Homo sapiens: one gene and its partners. The protein of the gene in region 1 purifies or fractionates together with the protein of each later gene. This does not show direct contact. Each region holds a gene or a part of one and is shown in the gene's direction. Other genes may lie near its edges.

The links. Proteins that work in one complex are often made in the same cells at the same time.
Region 2: the proteins of XPNPEP1 (region 1) and PDE12 fractionate together in Homo sapiens (co-fractionation; one large-scale study listed by BioGRID). This does not show direct contact.
Region 3: the proteins of XPNPEP1 (region 1) and DMGDH fractionate together in Homo sapiens (co-fractionation; one large-scale study listed by BioGRID). This does not show direct contact.
Region 4: the proteins of XPNPEP1 (region 1) and VGLL4 purify together in Homo sapiens (co-immunoprecipitation; one large-scale study listed by IntAct). This does not show direct contact.

What each region holds. Positions count from the first base shown.
Region 1 is NC_000010.11:109,916,050-109,921,150, reverse strand, and holds part of XPNPEP1 (xaa-Pro aminopeptidase 1), read left to right. Parts: intron 1-5,101. UniProt on the Homo sapiens protein: Metalloaminopeptidase that catalyzes the removal of a penultimate prolyl residue from the N-termini of peptides, such as Arg-Pro-Pro. Contributes to the degradation of bradykinin.
Region 2 is NC_000003.12:57,558,529-57,563,629, forward strand, and holds part of PDE12 (2',5'-phosphodiesterase 12 isoform 1 precursor), read left to right. Parts: intron 1-781; coding exon 782-860; coding exon of another isoform or gene 861-892; exon of another isoform or gene 893-1,033; coding exon 1,034-1,476; 3' UTR 1,477-5,101. UniProt on the Homo sapiens protein: Enzyme that cleaves 2',5'-phosphodiester bond linking adenosines of the 5'-triphosphorylated oligoadenylates, triphosphorylated oligoadenylates referred as 2-5A modulates the 2-5A system. Degrades triphosphorylated 2-5A to produce AMP and ATP.
Region 3 is NC_000005.10:79,037,819-79,042,919, reverse strand, and holds part of DMGDH (dimethylglycine dehydrogenase, mitochondrial precursor), read left to right. Parts: intron 1-438; coding exon 439-637; intron 638-5,101. UniProt on the Homo sapiens protein: Catalyzes the demethylation of N,N-dimethylglycine to sarcosine. Also has activity with sarcosine in vitro.
Region 4 is NC_000003.12:11,566,560-11,571,660, reverse strand, and holds part of VGLL4 (transcription cofactor vestigial-like protein 4), read left to right. Parts: intron 1-2,862; exon of another isoform or gene 2,863-3,054; coding exon of another isoform or gene 3,055-3,056; intron 3,057-5,101. UniProt on the Homo sapiens protein: May act as a specific coactivator for the mammalian TEFs.

The sequences.
Region 1 (5,101 bases):
GTGCTTTGACAGAGAACTTAAGAATTTTATCTGTCCAAACAAGTGAAAGGTGGATAGATCTTGGACTCTGCGGAGACCAAGATACGACAAGAACAGAGCAGCTGTAGTATTGAGCTGCTTCGTAGCTCCTGTGATCCTGACAGAAAGGTGGAGGTGTTGATGCTCACACAGAGAGTTTGAGCTCACCTGTCAGACCTAGTTTCTGGTCTTGGCTTTGCGGCTACTGAGTTATATGGCCTATGGTAAGTTATCTTTGTTTTTTTATTCTGTAAAATGAATGAATAGGATTACCTTAAGGTAACCTTGGCTAGGCACGGTGGCTCACACCTATAGTCCCAGCACTTTGGGAGGCTGAGGTGGGAGGATCACTTGAGGCCAGGAGTTTGAGACCAGACTGGGCAATGTGGTGAGATCCTGTCTCTTCAGAAAATTATTAAAAAAAAAAAATCAGGTTGGTGTGATGGCACATACCTGTAGTCCTAGGTCCTTGGGAGATTGAGGCAGGAGAATTGCTTGAGCTTAGGAGTTTGAGGCTGCCATAAGCTAAGATTGTGCCACTGCACTCCAGCCTGAGTGACACAGCAAGACCCTGTCTCTAAAAAAATGATAACCTTCCACCTCTGTAGTCATGTGTCTGAACCAGTCATTGGGATCAGTTACTTACCATCTTAGAAACTTACGTATGAAGTAATGGGAAATTCGGTGAGAATCTGACTTGTATCCCTGTCCACAAGAAAGAGATGTTATAAAATTTATAATGGCTTTATTGAGATATAATTCACTTATATACAATTCATCTGTTAAAATGTACAATTCAAGTTATTAGTATAGTCACAGAGTTGTACAACTATCATCACAATCATTTTAGAACATTTTCTTCATCCCCGAAAGAAATCCTGTTACCTGTAATCAGTCACTCCTCACCTCAGCCCTTGGCAACCACCAACACTGCATGTCTACTTCCTGTCTTTACCGATTTGCCTATTCTGGACATTTTATGTGAATAGAATCATATACTATGTGGTCTTTTGTATTAGGCTTTTTCCCTTAGCATGTTTTCAAGGTTCACCTATGTCATAGGTGTGATTTCTTTCTTTTCTTTCTTTTTTTTTTTTTAAATGAGACGGAGTCTTGCTCTGTTGCCAGGCTGGAGTGCAGTGGCACGATCTTGGCTCACTGCAGCCTCCACCTCCCGGGTTCAAGTGATTCTCCTGCCTCAGCCTCCTGAGTAGCTGGGACTACAGGTGTGCACCACCACACCCAGCTAATTTTTGTATTTTCAGTAGAGATGGGGTTTCACCATGTTGGCCAGGATGGTCTCTATCTCTTGACCTCATGATCTGCCCGTCTCAGCCTCCCAAAGTGCTGGGATTACAGGCGTGAGCTACCGCGCCTGGCGTGATTTCCCTTTATTGGCAAAGAACATTCCATTATATGGATAGACACTTTTATTTATCCATTTATCAGTTGGGCATTTGAGTTGTTCCTACAGTTTGGCTGTTACAAATAATGCAGCTGTGAATATTTGTGTACAACTTTTTATAAGGATATATATTTTCAATTTTCTTGATTGTGTACCTAGGAATGGTTTTCCAAAGCCATTACACCATTTTACATTCTCATCAGGAATGTTTGAGGGTTCTAATTTTTTCTATACCCTCACCCGCACTTGTTACTGTCAATCTTTTTTATTATAACCTTCCTAGTGGGTGTGAAGTGGTATCACATTGTGGTTTCGATTTGTGTTTCCCTAATGACTAATGATGAGCATCTTTTCATGTACTTCTTGGTCATTTGTGTACTTTTGCTGGAGAAATGTCTATTCAGATCCTTAGCCCATTTAAAATTGGGTTATATGTCTTTTTATTGTTGAGTTATAATAGTTCTTTATATATTCTGGATACTAGACTCAACAGATTTACAGATGTTTTCTCCCATTCTGTGGGTTGTCATCCATTTTCTTGATGGTATCCTTTGAAACACAAACATTTTAAATTCTGATGAAGTCCAGTGTATCTCTTTTTTCTTTTGTTGCTGTGCTTTTTGATTTGTGTCTAAAGAAGTCATTGCCTAATCCAAGGTCAGGCAGACTTATGGTTGCGCTATAAGAGTTTTACAGTTTAGCGCCTACGTTCATACCTGTGATCCATTTGGGTTAATTTTTTTTTATTTTCTTTCTTTCTTTTCTTTCCTTCCTTTCCTTCCTTTTCGTTCTTTTTCTTTTTTCTCTCTCTCCTTCCTTCCTTCCTTCCTTCCTTCCTTCCTTCCTTCCTTCCTTCCTTCCTTCCTTCCCTCCTTCCTTCCTTCCTTCCTTCCTCCTTTCCTTTCTTTCCTTTCTTTCCTTTCCTTCCTCTCCTTCCTCTCCTTCCTTCCTGTCTTCCTTTCTTTCTTTCCTTTTCTCTTGCTCTGTCGCCCAGGCTGGAGTGCAGTGGCCCGATCTCAGCTCACTGCAAGCTCCCCCTCCTGGGTTCACACCATTCTCCTGCCTCAGCCTTCCGAGTAGCTGGGACTACATGCGCCCGCCACCATGCCTGGCTAATTTTTTGTATTTTTAGTAGAGACAGGGTTTCACCGTGTTAGCCAGGATGGTCTGGATCTCCTGACCTCGTGATCTGCCCACCTCGGCCTCCCAAAGTGCTGGGATTACAGGCGTGAGCCACCGTGCCCGGCCCATTTGTGTTAATTTTTGAATATGATATGAAGTGGGTTAAACTTCATTTTTCTTTTTTTGAGACAGGGTCTCTCTGTGTCACCAAGGCTAGACTGCAGTGGGGCGATCACAGCTCACTGCTGCCTCAACCTCTCTGGCTTAAGCGATCCTCCTGCCTCAGCCTCCTAAGTAGCTGGGACCACAGGTGTGCACCACCAAACCTGGCTCATTTTTGTAAATTTTGTAGAGATGGGTTTTGCCATGTTGCCCAAGCTAGTCTCGAACCCTGGGACTCAGGCAGTCTGCCTGCCTTGGCCTCCCAAAGTGCTGGGATTACAGATGTGAGTCATTGTGCCTGGGCTTTTTTGTTTTTTTGTTTTTTTTTTTGAGGCAGGGTCTTGCTCTGTAACCCAAGCTGGAGTGCAGTGGTGCTATCATGGCTCACTGCAGCCTTGACCTCCAGGGCTCAAGTGATCCACCCCACCTCAGCCTCCAGAGTAGCTGAGACTACAGGTGCACACCACCATGCCTGACTAATTTTTGTATTTTTTGTAGAAACGGAGTTTTGCCATGTTGGAAACTTTATTCTTTTGCATGTGGATATTCACTTGTCCCAGCACCATTTGTGGAAGAGACTATTCCTTCCCCATTGAATGGTTTTGGCATCCTCAAAAATCAGTTGACAGTTGTGAGGGTTTATTTCTGGACTGTTAATTCTGTTTTACTCATTTGTAAGTCCATTCTTATGCTAGCACCACACTGTCTTGTATTTAGGTTTGAAATTGGGATGGAAGAGTTCTTTTCAAGATTTTGTTCTTTTTCAAGATTGTTTTGGCTATTCTGGGTCCCTTGCATTTCCATATGAATTTTAGAATCTGCTTGTCAGTTTCAACCTCCAAGCTAGCTAGAATTTTGGCAGGGAATGCATTGAGTCCATAGATCAATTTGGGAATTACTGCCATCTTACCAATAGTAAACCTTCCAATCCATGACCATGGAATAGCTTTTGTTTATTTAGGTCTTCTTCAGTTACTTTCAGCAGTCTTTTTTAGTTTTTGTGGTGTACATTTTGCACTTCTTTTGTTAAATTTATTTCTAACTATTTTTTGTTTTTGATATTGTAAATGGACTTTTCTTAATTTTATTTTTGAATTGCTCATTACAAGGATATAGAAGTCAAATTGATTTTTTAAATATTGATTTTTGTATCCTGCATTCTTGATGAACTCAGTTATTAGTTCTAATTTTGTTTGTGGATTCTTTAGGATTTTCTGTATTCAAGATTATGTCAATTGCAAATAGAGATAGTTTTACTTCTTCTTTTCTAAACTGGATGCCTTTTGTTTCATTTTCTTGCCTACTTACCCTAGATAGAACTTCTGGTACAATGTTGAATAGAAATGCCAAGAGTAGACATCCCTGTCTACTCTGCCAAGAGTAGACATTCCCTAGATTATAGGGGAAAGCATTCAGTCTTTCAGCATTAAGAATGATGTTAGCTGTAGGTTTTGTAATAACTTTTGTCAGGTTGAGGAATTTTTCTTCTAGTTTGCTGAGTACTTTTAACTTGAAGGGGCATTGGATTTTGTCGTGCTTTTTCTGCGTTTGTTGAGAAGACCATGTAGATTTTGTTCTTTATTCTATTGATATGGCCTGTTATAATAATTGATTTTTCATATATTGAGCCAACCTTGTATTCCTGGGATAAGACCCACTTGGCGATGATGATCCTTTTTATATTGTTCTAGATTCCGTTTGCTGGTATTTTGTTGAGGATATTTGTATTTATATTTTAGAAGACATATTGGGGTGTCTTACTTTTTTATGAAAGAATAATATGTTTACTCTCGTTAAGAACATCCCATTCTGTCCAGTAAAACTAAAGTCACAGCCATATGAAAGCAGGCCTAGAGTCATTGGTAAAGCTGCCTGGTTATCTGGTTCTTACCGTGTGGTAGACTGAGCTAATGTGTCCCTCTCTGTCTTTACCAACATGTAAAAATGCGGTTAAATTATAACTTAATTGAGTTCATAGCTGAGTAAAATTCAAAACCTTTTCTATGGCCCCACAGTAGGCCCCCTGGTGCCTCAATGATGTTGTCTCTGAACCACTTACCTCCCCATCCCCTGATACAATCACACTGCGCTGACCTTCTTGCTTTTCCTCAGGTAAACTAGACATACTCCTGCCTCATGGCCTTTGCACTTGCTGTTGTCCTGGAACATTGTTCCCCTAGCCGTTCACATGGCTTGCTTCCTCACTCTTTTTAGGTCTGTGTTAAAATGTTGTCTGTTATAATAGAGGCTGTCCCTGGCTACCCCATATGAAATAATCCTTCCCCTTACCTCCTTGATGCTTTCTTCCCCTTGCTGTGCTTTACTTTTTTTCACAAAACACGTTCTTATTACTTGACGTATTGTGTACTTGTTTTGTGTCTGTTGCCTTCTCTT
Region 2 (5,101 bases), on another chromosome or scaffold:
CACCTAGGCTGGAGTACGGTGGCGCGATATCGGCTCACCGCAACTTCCGCCTCCCGGGTTCAAGCGATTCTCCTGCCTCAGCCTCCCTAGTAGCTGGGACTAGAGGCGCGTGCCACCACGCCCGGCTAATTTTTTTAGTAGAGACGGGGTTTGGGGTTTCACCATGTTAGCCAGGATGGTCTCGATCTCCTGACCTCGTGATCCGCCCGCCTCAGCCTCCCAAAGTGCTGGGATTACAGGCGTGAGCCACCACGCCCGGCCTATATTGGACTATTATTAAAACATGTTACACTGAACCTAGTCATGTAGATCCTGAAACTTTAAGTTGGATTTCATGACTGCAGTCCTAGTTCATCAAGGGAAGGAGATGGAAGAAAACGTTAGTTCGCCATTAGTCTTAGATAAAAAACAGGCCGGGCCTGGTGGCTTATGCCTGTAATCCCAGCACTTTGGGAGGCCGAGGCGGGTGGATCACAAGTCAGGAAATCGAGACCATCCTGGCTAACACGATGAAACCCCGTCTCTACTACAAATACAAAAAAATTAGCCGGGCGTGGTGGCACGCGCCTGTAGTCCCAGCTACTCCGGAGGCAGAGGCAGGGGAATCGCTTGAACCCGGGAGGCGGAGCTTGCAGTGAGCCGAGATCGCGCTACTGCACTCCAGCCTGGTTGACAGAGTGAGACTGTCTCGAAAAAACTCAAAAAAACAAACAAACAAACAAAAACATTCAGGAGATTTGCAAATGCCAACTGAACTCTTGGCACTTTCCGTTTATTTTAGGTTTCAGTTCTTCAGTCTACAAAGGACTCTTCTAAAAGGATATGTGTTGCTAATACCCATCTTTACTGGCATCCTAAAGGTAGGTTTTATTTGGTATCACAAGTGACTTAAACACGCTTAAAGTTGTTTAAAGTGTTTTACACAAATGCATATCTTGAACGTCACCCAGAGACTGTAATTTGTGTAGTTTTTCTTTTTTAACTTAAAGACAACTTTAAAAAATACTTACATTAATGTTTTTTATATTCATAGGTGGGTATATTCGCCTCATTCAAATGGCAGTAGCCTTGGCTCACATAAGACATGTTTCATGTGATCTGTATCCTGGCATACCAGTTATATTTTGTGGGGACTTTAATAGTACACCATCAACAGGAATGTATCATTTTGTCATCAATGGCAGCATTCCAGAGGATCATGAAGACTGGGCTTCCAATGGGGAGGAGGAAAGATGCAATATGTCTCTTACACATTTCTTCAAGCTGAAAAGTGCTTGTGGTGAACCTGCTTACACAAATTATGTTGGTGGCTTTCATGGATGTCTAGATTACATTTTCATTGACTTAAATGCTTTAGAGGTTGAACAGGTGATTCCATTACCTAGTCATGAAGAAGTTACCACCCACCAGGCCTTACCTAGTGTTTCCCATCCCTCTGATCACATAGCACTTGTATGTGATTTAAAATGGAAATAGATGTGTGTTTAATGGAATTGAAGTCTGAAAAGGAAGTAGTTATTTTAGCAGAAAATTTAATATGAATCAAAGCTTATATGTAAACTTCAAGGAGGAATGGTAAAATGTTCAGCCCTCCTAGTTATGTTCCTGATGTCTTCGTTATGAAACTGTTGATGTTTGCATCATACATCTTCTCTTTCCTTGTTTTCCTCTACAATTGGAGGAGAAACAAATATATTTCTTACTAGCAAAATAGAAAATTGAATTATTTTTCTCCAAATTGAGACTCTCAGAAAAGGAAGATTGAATTAGCGTGTTTTTTGTTTGTTTGTTTTTGTTTTTGTTTTTGTTTTTTTGAGATGGAGTTTCACTCTTGTTGCCCAGGCTGGAGTGCAATGGCACAATCTCGGCTCACTGCAACCTCCGCCCCCTGGGTTTAAGCGATTCTCCTGCCTCAGCTTCCCGAGTAGCTGGGATTACAGGCGTGCGCCAACATGTCTGGCTAATTTTTGTATTTTTAGTAGAAATGGGGTTTCGCCACGTTGGCCAGGCTGGTCTTGAACTCCTGACCTCAGGTGATCCACCCACCTCGGCCTCCCAAAGTGTTGGGATTACAGGCGTGAGCCACCGCACCCGGCCCTTGTGTACATTTTTATAAGAGAATTTTTTTAGCTAGGAGTTCAGAATTTTTAAAGTACCATTTGAATGATCTTAATTTTTCTTTCATGACAACACATTCCAAAATGAATCATGCTTATGTACTAAGAGGGAAAATGTATTTAAGTTAAGGGTGAGAGACTTAAGTTATAGGTGACCTTAGAGACCTAAGGTGAGAGACTTGACACATGGAAGGAGTAACATTAGGGTCTACCTCTACCTCAATTTAGTTAGCGATTTACTACAATTTCAGAGCTTTAACAAAAGATAAAAATAAATCGTCACCAATTGTTATTGCTTCTCATCTTTCATTTTTCAATGAACAAGTAAGGTATTTTCATTCTTATTTTTAGGATTTTAGTTTTTAGTGTATGGTACAAATGAACACAGTTTATATTCTAATTCTTACTGCAGCTCATTTTAATTTTTAGGATGCAAGCACAATTTAGTATTCAAAGTGAGTAGCAACATATTCAACTTGATCCCATTGTCTTCAGTTACTCTTGCCCATGAAAAATGTTCATAAATGAACAGGGTATTTGACCATATGATATTAGAAAATACAGCACATTACTTTATGAGAAACTACCTACTGATATGGGCTTGAAATTTTGGATGAATCATTGAGCATTTCTACACTAGAAGTAATTTCAAAATTGTTGGTTTTTATAAACAGGAAAAAGGTTGAGTAGTGGGACTTTTAAGCATCTCTGAAATAAAAAACTTCTTTTTACAGACAAGCATTATAGTTTGAGTTACAGACAACAGTGTGTATATATGTAATATATATATAGTAAAATGAAATTTAAATATGAAGCCAAACTTTTTAAAATTAGAAACTACAAATGGTTATACTGATTAGTGTCTAGCCTAGAGTGGTAACCATGCTTTACTAATTCAGTTATGAAATACATTATTTATAATGCATTAGCTGTATTAGCTGTTGCTTTTTTGATGTTCAGGATAACTATGTTATCTCATTTCTGCATTTAATTAATAGCTCGAGTATTAAAAGCCCACTCCCTTCAAGAAAAGCTTTGATTTTCCCCAGTCATGAAAGCCCTTGTTTCAAATTCTTTAATCTCTGAACCTAGTATCATAAGAATTTCCTCTTTTGATAACATCTGTACTTTCATATTCTGCTCACTATCAAATGTATTGTTAACACTTAGTAAGTTTGAAAATGAAGGGGTTTTATCTGCATTTGACATTGAACCTTGAAGTACTTTAAGTACTCCAAGGGGAAAATTAAAGTGGAAGTTTCTTCGGATCTTGTTTAGAAAAAACTATAAATAAAAAATTGATGCTACCAAATTGTGCCTTCCTAAATAACATTTTTGAGAGCATTTTAACAGCAGTTTACAAATATGTAAATAATAGATTAAAACCAAATCTTGATTCTCTTGTGAATTTTTTTTTCATTTTAAAAATATGTTTTTGGGCTGTTTTCAAAGAAAGATGTTGATAGAACCCTTAGAGTGACTTGGGAGAAAACAAAGTGTCACATCAAAAAGTTGAGAAACATTTTGAAAGAAAAAATTCGAACATGCCCATGAAAAAAGCATACAGCTTCCACATTAACACTGGCTAGATTAAACTCTAGTCAGAAAAACTCAGCACTTAACAGACATTCCATGTCCTATATCCTTAATTTTGATGTTTTCTGACTAAACAATATACTCAGATTGTATACAGGCATTTCACATTATTAGGACATGGAATGTTATTGTGAAGTGCCATATACTGTGATCAAATCTCCAGTATACGGATACGTTAAAATGATTGGAGTCCAAAGGTAGGGAACACTAAGAAAATGTATAAATAGCATACACATTTCTTTGTACTCATGAGTTAGAATGCAGTGTTATTCAGAAATGTCTGTTTAAAGCACCTATGTGATTGCATTTTTCTATTACATTTGGATTTTTTAGTACATTTAATTTTAAGAAAACATGGGAAATCTAGCGACTTTCTATGGTAAACCACATTTTATAATGTCACAAGTTCTTGCTATAGGAATTAACATTCTAGAATTTTATATTGATTATAAAAGAGTATTTCAGAACATATTATTCTGTTAAAATGAACTCTTGCACAGTTGCCGCTACAGCAAATGTGTCTGCCAATAATCAAAATTCATGAGCAAACAATCGTTTCTGGCTGTAATGTATGTTCTTTTTGAAATTCTGTATGCTAAAATCAGTTGTTTCAAAATTTCAAGAATTCCACTGAGTAGTGATTTTTCTGAGTACTAAGCTATGATCTCATCAGAATGTGCTGGTTTCAGTCTGGAGATAGATTTCTGAGGAGCCTAATACAAGGGAGAGAATGTCCAAAGAACACTACTGTGGAAAGTTCTTACGATGGAAATTGACATCTTTTGTATCTCATTCTCCAGCCGTGAAATAAAGGCAGAGGTTCCCTGCAAACTAGTTTGGTTGGGATAAATCCAATATTTATATATAATGAAAAATAAAAGTTTGCATTATTAGTTTATCACAAGACCCATGTGACAACTCAGAAAATATTCTCAGCATAATTTTTTTAAGAGATAGAGTCTCACTGTTACCCAGGCTGGAGTGCAGTGGTGCAGTCATAACTTACTACAGCCTCAAACTGCGGGGCTCAAATGATCCTCCTGCCTCAGCGTCCCAAGTAGTTGAGATTACAAGCCCAACCTTCCATAACTGAAAACTAACTTTCTTTTTTTCTTTTTTTATTATTATACTTTAAGTTCTAGTGTACATGTGCCCAACGTGCAGATTTGTTACATAGGTATACATGTGCCATGTTGGTTTGCTGCACCCGTTAACTCGTCATTTACATTAGGTATTTCTCCTAATGCTATCCCTCCCCCAGCCCTGAAAATGAATTTTTTAAACACAAATAAAAAATATTTCAGTGTTTTGAGAATTTTAATAATTTGCTTAATATAGTACAGGAAGGCAACACTATCTAGAGGGCCAGGCATAGTGGCTCTTGACTG
Region 3 (5,101 bases), on another chromosome or scaffold:
CTTGGAGGAGTGTTCCACTTTTTCCAGTATTCTGCCATGACTTTGTAAACTCCCATTTGCCCTCATCTCAGGGGATGAAACAGGTTCTTATGGTTAATTGAAGCATAACGATCTTCTTGACAAACCAAATTATAGTTTTTTTTTAAAAAAAACTGATTGGATTAAATATCAGAAACTATATTATTCATACATTTAAATTTTATATTAATTAAAGGTTAACTTTTATGATTTTGTTTCAAGAACAATACCATTGTTTTCAGTAATATAAATGGATACTCATCTGTTGATAGGGAATATGAAATTTAGACTTTAACAAAAAATGGCAGTACTTTCCTAACAGGCCATCTTTAAATGTAGGCCATGTCAGAGGCTTAAATCACTTTACAGGACTTGTCAGCTCAGCTACGGCATCCTGACCACAAGGGCAAATCTTTTTAGGTTTTGGAAAGGAACTCTTTGAGTCTGATCTAGATCGAATCATGGAACACATCAAAGCTGCCATGGAAATGGTTCCTGTCTTGAAAAAGGCTGACATCATCAATGTTGTCAATGGTCCTATCACGTATTCTCCTGACATTCTGCCTATGGTGGGGCCCCATCAGGGGGTCAGAAACTACTGGGTGGCTATAGGCTTTGGGTAAGTATCTTCATGTAATTCAACATTTATTGTAGAATCACTTATTTTAGCTAAATCTAGTTCCATATTCTCAGGATGCAAAAGGGAAATGTGGGAGGCTGAGAGAGAGAGAAAGAGAAACAGAGAGAGACCCAGAGAGTTTTCTCCCTTTCATGACCAAGGATTCATACAATGAATAAAAAATACTGGTTCAATCACTTGTATATGTTTTAAAGAAGGGCAACTATTTCCTGGAACACAGAAGGGCAATGATTTCCTGGAGCTTTCTCTCTTTTATTTTTTCAGATGGAGTTTTGCTCTCGTTGCCCAGGCTAGAGTACAGTGGCGTGATCTTGACTCACTGCGACTTCTGCCTCCTGGGTTCAAGCGATTCTCCTGCCTCAGCCTCCTCAGTAGCTGGGATTATAGGCACCCGGCATCACGCCGGCTAATTTTTTGTAATTTTTTTTTAGTAGAGACAGGGTTTTACCATGTTGCCCAGGCTGGTCTCAAACTCCTGACCTCAGGCAATCTGCCCACCTCAGCCTCCCAAAGTGCTGGGATTACAGGTGTGAACCACCGCACCCGGCCTCCTGGAGCTTTCTCTTTGCATATTTCCTGCCATTTCTATTAACTGTTTCTGGTTTTATGCTGTGTATCTTCAGATAGTCAATTTGCCCCAGTTTTACAAGGATGTTTTCATAACACGATGTGACAAAGATAATTCAAAATATCAAATGTATAACATGTCTGCTGCATTTTTCACCATAATTCATGTTTGTCCAACATGATTTGTTTCTTTATAAGTCCTCAGGTTGCTTTCTATTTATGACTCCATTGCCTCTTTGATGTTTCATTTCTGATGTTTGTTCCATTAATTTGGTGAATATTGATGTCAAGCCCACTCAACTATCATATCACATCTTCTAATATTCTATTTTTCTTCCCCATTTTATTTGGCCATTTATTCAACTAATGTATAATAACTGCTAGCTCTGTGCCAGGCCTAGGGCTAGGCATTGGAATACAGCTGACAACAAAGCAGTGAGGTCTGATTGGAGCTGGAGGGCTGCCTGAGGCACAGCTCTGCTGATCCAATAGAGAAGCTGGGGTCTCTACCAAGGTAGCAGCAGTGAAGACTGAGAGATGGGAGATAAAATCATCTAGATTTGGTGATCAATTTCATAAGATATTGAAGGGAAAGAGAAAAATGGCAAATGATGGCAACCTTTCTAACTTGACCACCGTCTATATGTTGGAGACATGGAGAGAGAGACAAGAAAATAATGAGTTCCATTTTTGATGGGTTGGGCTTGAAGTGTTAAGTTTAGGTATGTGGGACATCCAGAGGGAGAAAGTCAGATGGAGATTTGGGATGGGAAGTTATAATGTAATTGAGGGTTTTATAGTCACCTATAGAGTCCATATGCAGGCATGTGGAAGTAGGAGTGCTTCTCCTGCACATCACTCATGTATCTTCTTTGGAGAAATGTCTATTCATATCCTTTGCCATTTTCATAATTGGGTAATTTGTCTTTTTATTGTTTAGCTATGGAAGTTCTTTATATATTCTAGATATAAGAACCTTATCAGGTACATGATTTGCAGAACTTTTCTCCCATTCTGTGGGTTGTTTTTTTACTTTCTTGATGGTGTCCATTGAAATACAAAACTTTTTAATTTTGATGAAGTCCAGAATATGTATTTTTCCTTGGTTCACATGTACTTTTGGTGTCATATACAAGTAACCATTGTCTAATCCAAGTTCGTGAAGATTTAAACCTATGTTTTCTTCTAAGAGTTTTATAGTTTTAGCTTTTGCATTTAGTTCTGTAATCAGTCATGAGTTAATTCTTGCATATGACGTGAGGTAGGTGTCCAACTTTAGTCTTTTCATATGTATAGCCAGTTGTCCCAGAACTATTCATTGAAAAGACTATTCTGTCCTCATTGAATTATGCTGGCATCTGTAATGTCTTTTTTCTGATTCCTTTTCTTACACCAAATGTGTGGTATTTTCCAGCACCAACAACCAATTCTCCAATTCTCTAGTACTAACTGGGTGTCCAACAATTCCATTCAATTCTGACACCAACTCCTGGAATTAACATAGACCCCACAGGTTAAGGGATCCGTTCCACAAGACTGCTCTCACTTCGGACAACAGTCTCAAGTCTCGGGAGACACCCATACTTCTGACCAACTGGGTGTTCCCACAACCCTCTCCTCAGATTTGATAATTTGCTAGAACCAATCACAAAACTCAGGAAAATACTTATGTTTACTCTTTTATTATAAAGGATTCAGCTCAGGAGTAGCCAAATGGAAGAGATACATAGGACAAAATGTGAGGGGTTAGGGGTGGGTGGGGCAGCACCACCAGGCCCTTTCCAGGTGCCTTCCTAGCCCATCACTGTGTTCACCAACCCAGAAGCTCTCTGAACCCCATGCCTAGGTCTTTATGGAGGTTTCATTGCATAGGCATGATTGATTACATTATTGGTGACTGCACTCAATATCTCTTCTCCACTCCCTGGAGGTTGGAGTAGGGAGTGAGACTGAAAGTTCTTTATTATTATTATTATTTATTATTATTATTATACTTTAAGTTTTAGGGTACATGTGCACAATGTGCAGGTTAGTTACATATGTATACATGTGCCTTGCTGGTGTGCTGCACCCATTAACTCGTCATTTAGCATTAGGTGTATCTCCTAATGTTATCCCTCCCCACTCCCCTGACCCCACAACAGTCCCCAGAGTGTGATGTTCCCCTTCCTGTGTCCATGTGTTCTCATTGTTCAATTCCGACCTACGAGTGAGAATATGTGGTGTTTGGTTTTTTGTCGTTGCGATAGTTTACTGAGAATGATGATTTCCAATTTCATCCATGTCCCTACAAAGGACATGAACTCATCATTTTTATGGCTGCATAGTATTCCATGGTGTATATGTGCCACATTTTCTTAATCCAGTCTATCATTGTTGCACATTTGGGTTGGTTCCAAGTCTTTGCTATTGTGAATAGTGCCACAATAAACATACGTGTGCATGTATCTTTATAGCAGCATGATTTATAGTCCTTTGGGTATATACCCAGTAATGGGATGGCTGGGTCAAATGGTATTTCTAGTTCTAGATCCCTGAGGAATCACCACACTGACTTCCACAATGGTTGAACTAGTTTATAGTCCCACCAACAGTGTAAAAGTGTTCCTATTTCTCCACATCCTCTCCAGCACCTGTTGTTTCCTGACTTTTTAATGATTGCCATTCTAACTGGTGTGAGATGGTATCTCATTGTGGTTTTGATTTGCATTTCTCTGATGGCCAGTGATGATGAGCATTTTTTCATGTGTCTTTTTGCTGCATAAATGTCTTCTTTTGAGAAGTGTCTGTTCACATCCTTCGCCCACTTTTTGATGGGGTTGTTTGTTTTTTTCTTGCAAATTTGTTTGAGTTCTTTGTAGATTCTGGATATTAGCCCTTTGTCAGATGAGTAGACTGAAAGTTCTAACTCTCTAATCACATGGTTGGTTTTTCTGGCTACCAGCCCCCATCCTGAAGCTACCTAGGACTGCTCTCCTCTCCACAAGAGTCATCTCATTAACATTCAAAAAATAGTAAATCTCAAATGTTTTATGAATTCTGTGTCAGGAACTGGGAATAAAGACCAAATATTTAATTTTTATTATACCACAGCATCTTTATAAAAAATAAATTGACCATAGATGTATGGGTTGATTTCTAGACTCTCAATTCTGTTCCTTCATCTGTGTCTATTCTTATGCGACTACTATACTGTCTTTTATTTATTTATTTATTTTTGAGACAGAGTCTTACTCTGCTGCCCAGGGAATGGCACGATCTTGTCTGACTGCAACCTCCACCTCCCGGGTTCAAGCAATTCTCTTGCTTCAGCCTCCCAAATAGCTGGGATTACAAGCACGCTCCACCATACCTGGATAATTTTTGTATTTTTAGTAGAGATGGGGTTTTCCCATTTTGGCCAGGCTGGTCTCAAACTCCTGACCTCAAGTGATCCACCCACCTCGACCCCCCAAAGTGCTGGGATTTCAGGTATCAGCCACCACACCCAGCTGACACTCTCTTAATTACTGTTACTAGAAGTTACTAGCTTTGTAGTAATTTCTGAAATCAGGAAGTATGAATCCTCCAACTTTGTTCTTTTTCAAAATTGTTTTGGCTGGAAGTCCCATAAATTTTAGGACTAGTTTGTCAATTTATGCAAAGAAGCCAGCTGAGATTTTGATAGAGATTGCATTGAATCTGTAGATCATTTTGGGGAGTATTGACATCTGAACAATATTAAGTATTCTGATCCATGAACATGAAATGTCTTTCCATTTACTTAGGTCTTTTAAAATGTCTTTGAACAATGATTTGTAGTTTTCAGAGTAAAAGTTTTGCACGTCTTTTGTTAAATTTATTCCTAAGTATTTTATTCTCTTTGATATTCCAATT
Region 4 (5,101 bases), on another chromosome or scaffold:
GGGTCTTACCCTGTTGCCCAGGCTGGAGTGCAGTGGCTCTGTCATGGCTCACTGTAGCCTTAACTTACTGGGCTCCAGCCATCCTCCTGAGTAGCTGGGATTACAGGCGCTACCATGCCCAGCTAATTTTTGTATTTTTTGTAGAGACGGGGTTTTGCCATGTTGCCCAGGCTGGTCTCGAACTCCTGGGCCTAAGCAGTCCACCTACGTTGGCCTCCCAAAGTGCTGGGATTACAGGCGTGAGTCACTGCACCTGGCCCCTTTATGGAGAGTTAATGGGGGAAACATTACGTGGGTGGATGGTTGTGGCAGTGATGCTGGCTGTGGCGGCATTCGCACTCGGGTTTCATTCCCTTGACTTTTTGGTGGCTTTTTTTCAATTATTAAGCAATGTTAAGCTATGGCAGTAGTTGCTGACGCATAGAAGGCAGAGACAGTCTCTGCCCTGTGTCCCTGCCAGCGAGGATGGACCCCGCTATTGAAGCCAGGAGCCTCAGGGTCATCTCTGTCTTTGGGACAGTCCGAATGCCGGTATTTTGCCAGCTTTTTCCTGCCCACGACACACTTCTTGCCATTTGTACTTAGGAGGGTGTCTCTGCCTCAGCCTCCGCCACCTCGGCAAACATCGTCTTCACCCAGGCCTTCCTTTGCAACCACTTCCCTCACTTCCCGTCTAAAATTGGCACAGAGGAGTGACGCAGCTTGACCAGGATGTCTTGGGGACACACCCAGGCACCTTGTTGCTCACTGGGAAGCAGTGAATTCTCCCACTCACAAGGGGAGAGAAGCCACGGTGATGAGTTCACTCCTGTGTGTGTGTTGTGGGGTGCTTTGGATGAGCTCGGGGACATTTAGAAGCAGGGAGGAGGTGAGGAGGACAACAGAAGTTGGAGGAAGGGACTAAAAGGGAGAAGACATCTCACCACTGTTTATGCCCAACATTTAAATGTTCCTTAAATTTTGCTTTTTCAGAAAAAAGTCTTTGCCACCAGTCATTTTCTCTGAAATCTCCTTAACTCCCTTGTCATTTGCCACAAACGCTGTTAACTGGACTCACACATACTATGTGTACCTTAATGATTTATTTACTCTATGGACAGTTATTAGAACATCTGGTATGTGGTCACCCGTGCGGAGCCAAGGAGATTAGGGCGTGGGGGCTGCAGTGTCAGCCTTCCCGGGAGTGCACGGTCCAGCCAGGGACCGGGGTCCCCTGGGAGCTGTGCTTCAGAAGCTTACTGACTGAGAAAGCCAGCGTGGCAGGACTGTCCGGGGACAGACCTTGGTGGCCGGCATCTCCGCACTGCTCCTTTCCTGTGTCTCTGCAGTTGGGGCAGGAAGGTGGGTGGAAATGGTGCTGGTGGGTCGGAAAGGCCTCCTGGCAGCTTGGGATGGAGCTGCGAGGTGATGGAGAGTCTCTTGGTGGGCCTGGTGTGACGACCCTGAGCGGCTGATGCCACAGGGCCGGTGTCTGTGGTGGGCAGCATGTCTAGGCAAAGCCTTCATCTTCTCCACCTTGGTCATCTCTTCTGTAAAACTGGGATGGTGCTGACCTGCCCTGTGCACATCAGAAACCCCAGGGGGCAGCAGGTAAAGGTTGGGAGGAAGTTCTGTCTATATTATTCAGGTAAAATTTTATTATTTAAAAAGCTGTAGTAAATTAGCAGAGCATACAGCTGACCACTTTAACCAGGTTTCAGGGCACCCTTCAGTGGCATTAAGTCTGTTTTCTGAGGAAGCTTTTTAAGATTAAAGATGTGCTAGCAATCTTATTTATTTAAAGACAGGGTCTTGCTCTGTCACCCAGGCTAAAGTGCAGTGGCGTGACCATGGCTCACTGTAGCCTCCACCTCCTGGGCCCAGGTGATCCTCCCACTTCAGCCTCCAAGTAGCTGGGACCACAGGTGCACGTCACCATGCCCAGCCAGCAGTCTCATTATGATGTGTTAAGACTGTGTGAACGACTGGCTGTCCTGCCAGTTCTCAGATGTCGGATTCTCCTGTAACTGCTGCGGTGGGAGAGAGAGGACGAAAGGGCTGGAGATGGGGCTGTGTCCCGGCCCACTCACTGGCCCTGTGCCGGCCCCTCCTCCTTTGAATCTCTTGTCTCCACCTGGACTCTGGTGCTTGGGGGATGTCTCTGCATAGCCTTCATTCTACTCCTGCCAGGCAACGCCTGGCATGGGGACGGGCTGCTTTGCCGCCTCAGGATGTTGGTTTTTGGGAGGCCAGGGCCCAAGGCTGCCCTGGGCCTCATCTCTTTCACTGGGTGGGAGCACCTGCCATGCCATGGTGCTCAGGGGCCTTTGGGGACCCCAGAATGTATCCTCAAAATGTCTTGTACCCATACCCCCTCCCCAGGCAGAGGAACTCAGACTCAGATCAGTGTAGCTTGTGGCAGTCCACGGTGAATGAAGCCCAGCGCAGGCTCAGAACGTCAGGTGATGGGGCTAAGGGCTAAGCATCCCAAAGCACGTTTGTTGGAGGGTGGGAAACTCATTTTAATGAGTATCAAATAGACGCAGTGCACTTCTTTCACGTGATGGATTCTTTCAATGTCACTGCTTGGAATCTGGTTTACTTTTCCCCAGATGTTATGGACATTCTTGGTTTCTTAGCTTAGAGAGCGTGTGGCTTTCAGTACTCAGAAAGCTCTGTCCTGGATGATGGTGTTGTAGGCCTCTCTTTCCCTCCCTCCTCTTTCCATCTTTCTCTCCGTGGGCAGCTGGCAGTGGAAGTGCCCGCCTAGGATGGGGATGAGGCCCGGGGCGGGGCCGGGTGCCGTGCAGCCTCAGCGGCTCTGATAGGCCTGGCACGGAGCCACTCAGAGTCCTTTGGGTGTTCGCGGGGATGCCGTGGGCTCTCTCGGGCACAGTCCTGACCAGGAGCGGAGGCGACTTCCATCTCCCGGGCAGGATGCGTGCGGTTTTCTGCCGTCCCCGGGAGCACATGACGCCTGGGAAGCAGTGGCCGGGAGGTGATTCATCCGGGCGAGCGGGGCCTGGAAAACAATGTCTGTCTTGAAGCTCCGGGAACCAGGAAAATGAGCTGGAAATGTGAGTAATGTATAATTTTACTAAAATTAACCAGCCAGTTCTCCAGGCCTTTTCTCGCTGTTTTCAGTGTCTTTGTCTGACCCATAGTGCCCACTGTGCTGTGTTCCACGGACTGTCTTTCCAGTTAGTGGGCCTGGAAGTCCCCTTCTCCCTGCTGCCCTGCGTAGGGTGGGCGCACAGTGGGGCTGTGGGAGCATAGATGGCAGATTTAGGTGCAGGGCTGCCCCGTCCTTACCTCTGCCCTGGCAGCTGGCGGCCCTGGCACCCCTTTCCTCTGTGATGTGGTCTCATAGTCATGCTTGGATTTCCTAAGGCGCAGCTGAGTCATCTGCGTGACTGTGCCGTGCCCCTAGGACATAAGGTGCGAGGGGTGGGCAGTGCCTTATGTACCACGACTTTGGCTTTGGACATGGGCAGACGCCTGACCTTTAGTCTGCTCCTCCATGCCACCCGGGGGTGTCTTTATCCTTGCCCGGATCCAGAGCTGTCACTTGGGAGCTGCAGCCCCTCCCGGGCCTTTCTGTCCCTGCTAGATTGTAAGCCCATGAGAAGGCAGGGCTGTAACCCTGCAGTTCTGGAACCTCCACAGAACAGGGACTTAACTAGCGCTGGTTGAGTAAACAGACGTCTAAATTCGGAGGCAGACTGTGTCTGAGGCTCTCCTGAATCTGGGACATGAGCCCCCAGGTCTATGCACTTCATGAAGTGGCCCGTGGAAGCATCACCTGGGGTGGAGAGAAGCCATTCACTCATGTTGTTAACAATAAAATTGTATCTTTATCTGAATTTAGAAGGGAGCGGGACACTGAAGATGAGGATGTGTGGTGACACTGATGAACTGAGTATTCAGGAACCAAGTCCCGTTTAGGTAGAAGCCAGCAGATCTCAGGACTGCTTGGCCTGACGTCCGTTCCGCGGAAGGTCTTCTGGTGACATCGGTGTCTGGGATCATAACCCTTGAGGCATTCATTGCAGAAACCTGTGCTGTCTTCTGAATCGCCACAGACAGATGACATTATGGACAGGCTGGTTTCAGTATTAAGGTTTTTAGTATTTTAACGTTTTGAAAATCGCCAGGATGTGTGTGGCGTGGATGGAACCTACTATCTAGACTCTGCCAGAACATTCTCTTCCATGATTGTCTTAATGGGCTGAACATTTAATCCTTAATTGCTTTTAAGATATTCTGTATCATCAGCCAGAAAATAAAGGGGAAGAAAAAAACCCCATAAACGAATACTGGGTCCTGTACAGCTAATCACCCTATAATCAATATACTCGGTTTAGGGCTGACAGGGTTCTCTTGGCGCTCACTGAGGGCTGCACTGCGCCGCTCTGATTGTTTTTGTTTGTGTGCTGTTTGTCCCCCATTTAGAGTCCTCTGGGTGGATCTTACTGTGACCACATGGTTACATGGGGACGCCGAGGCTCGGAACGCCTCGGGTCACTAAGCTGAGCGCGTGCCCCTGCTGGAGATGGCGCAGAATGACATCACAACATCACAGCCGAGGCTGCACTCAGGCCCCCTCTGGTGCTTCTCCTGCTCAGCCCTTAGCAGCTCACCGACTGGGCCGCAGGGTCCATCTAAAGGCTTGAATGCGCCTCCAGTTGACTCCTCAGCCCTCCAGCTCTCCATGATTCTGCCCACCCACAGTTCCACTCCACGATACCTGCCTTTCTTACACGGTCACCCATATGCTGCTTCTCTTCATTCACCCGTTAAGTCTCTGTGCACCCCTGGTAGCAAGCGTAATGAGACAGGAGGGACTCGACGCCCTCAGAGGCTGCCGTGTGTGAGGAGGGGCGGGTGCGTAGACGAAGAGATCATTGACGGTGGGGGATGGATTCTGTATTAAAGGTTTGCACGGGGCGCCTTGGGATTCTACACTGCAGCTGTGGTTGGCAGCGCAGGACGGGGAGGAGGGAGGCTAGAGCGGCACCGCGTGTACACAGCCACAGAGGCAGAGAGTGGCCGCATCTTATTTGAGGAATGGCAAGTAGATGGTTGGAACTACGGAACACAACATTTGGAGGCGTGAAGCCAG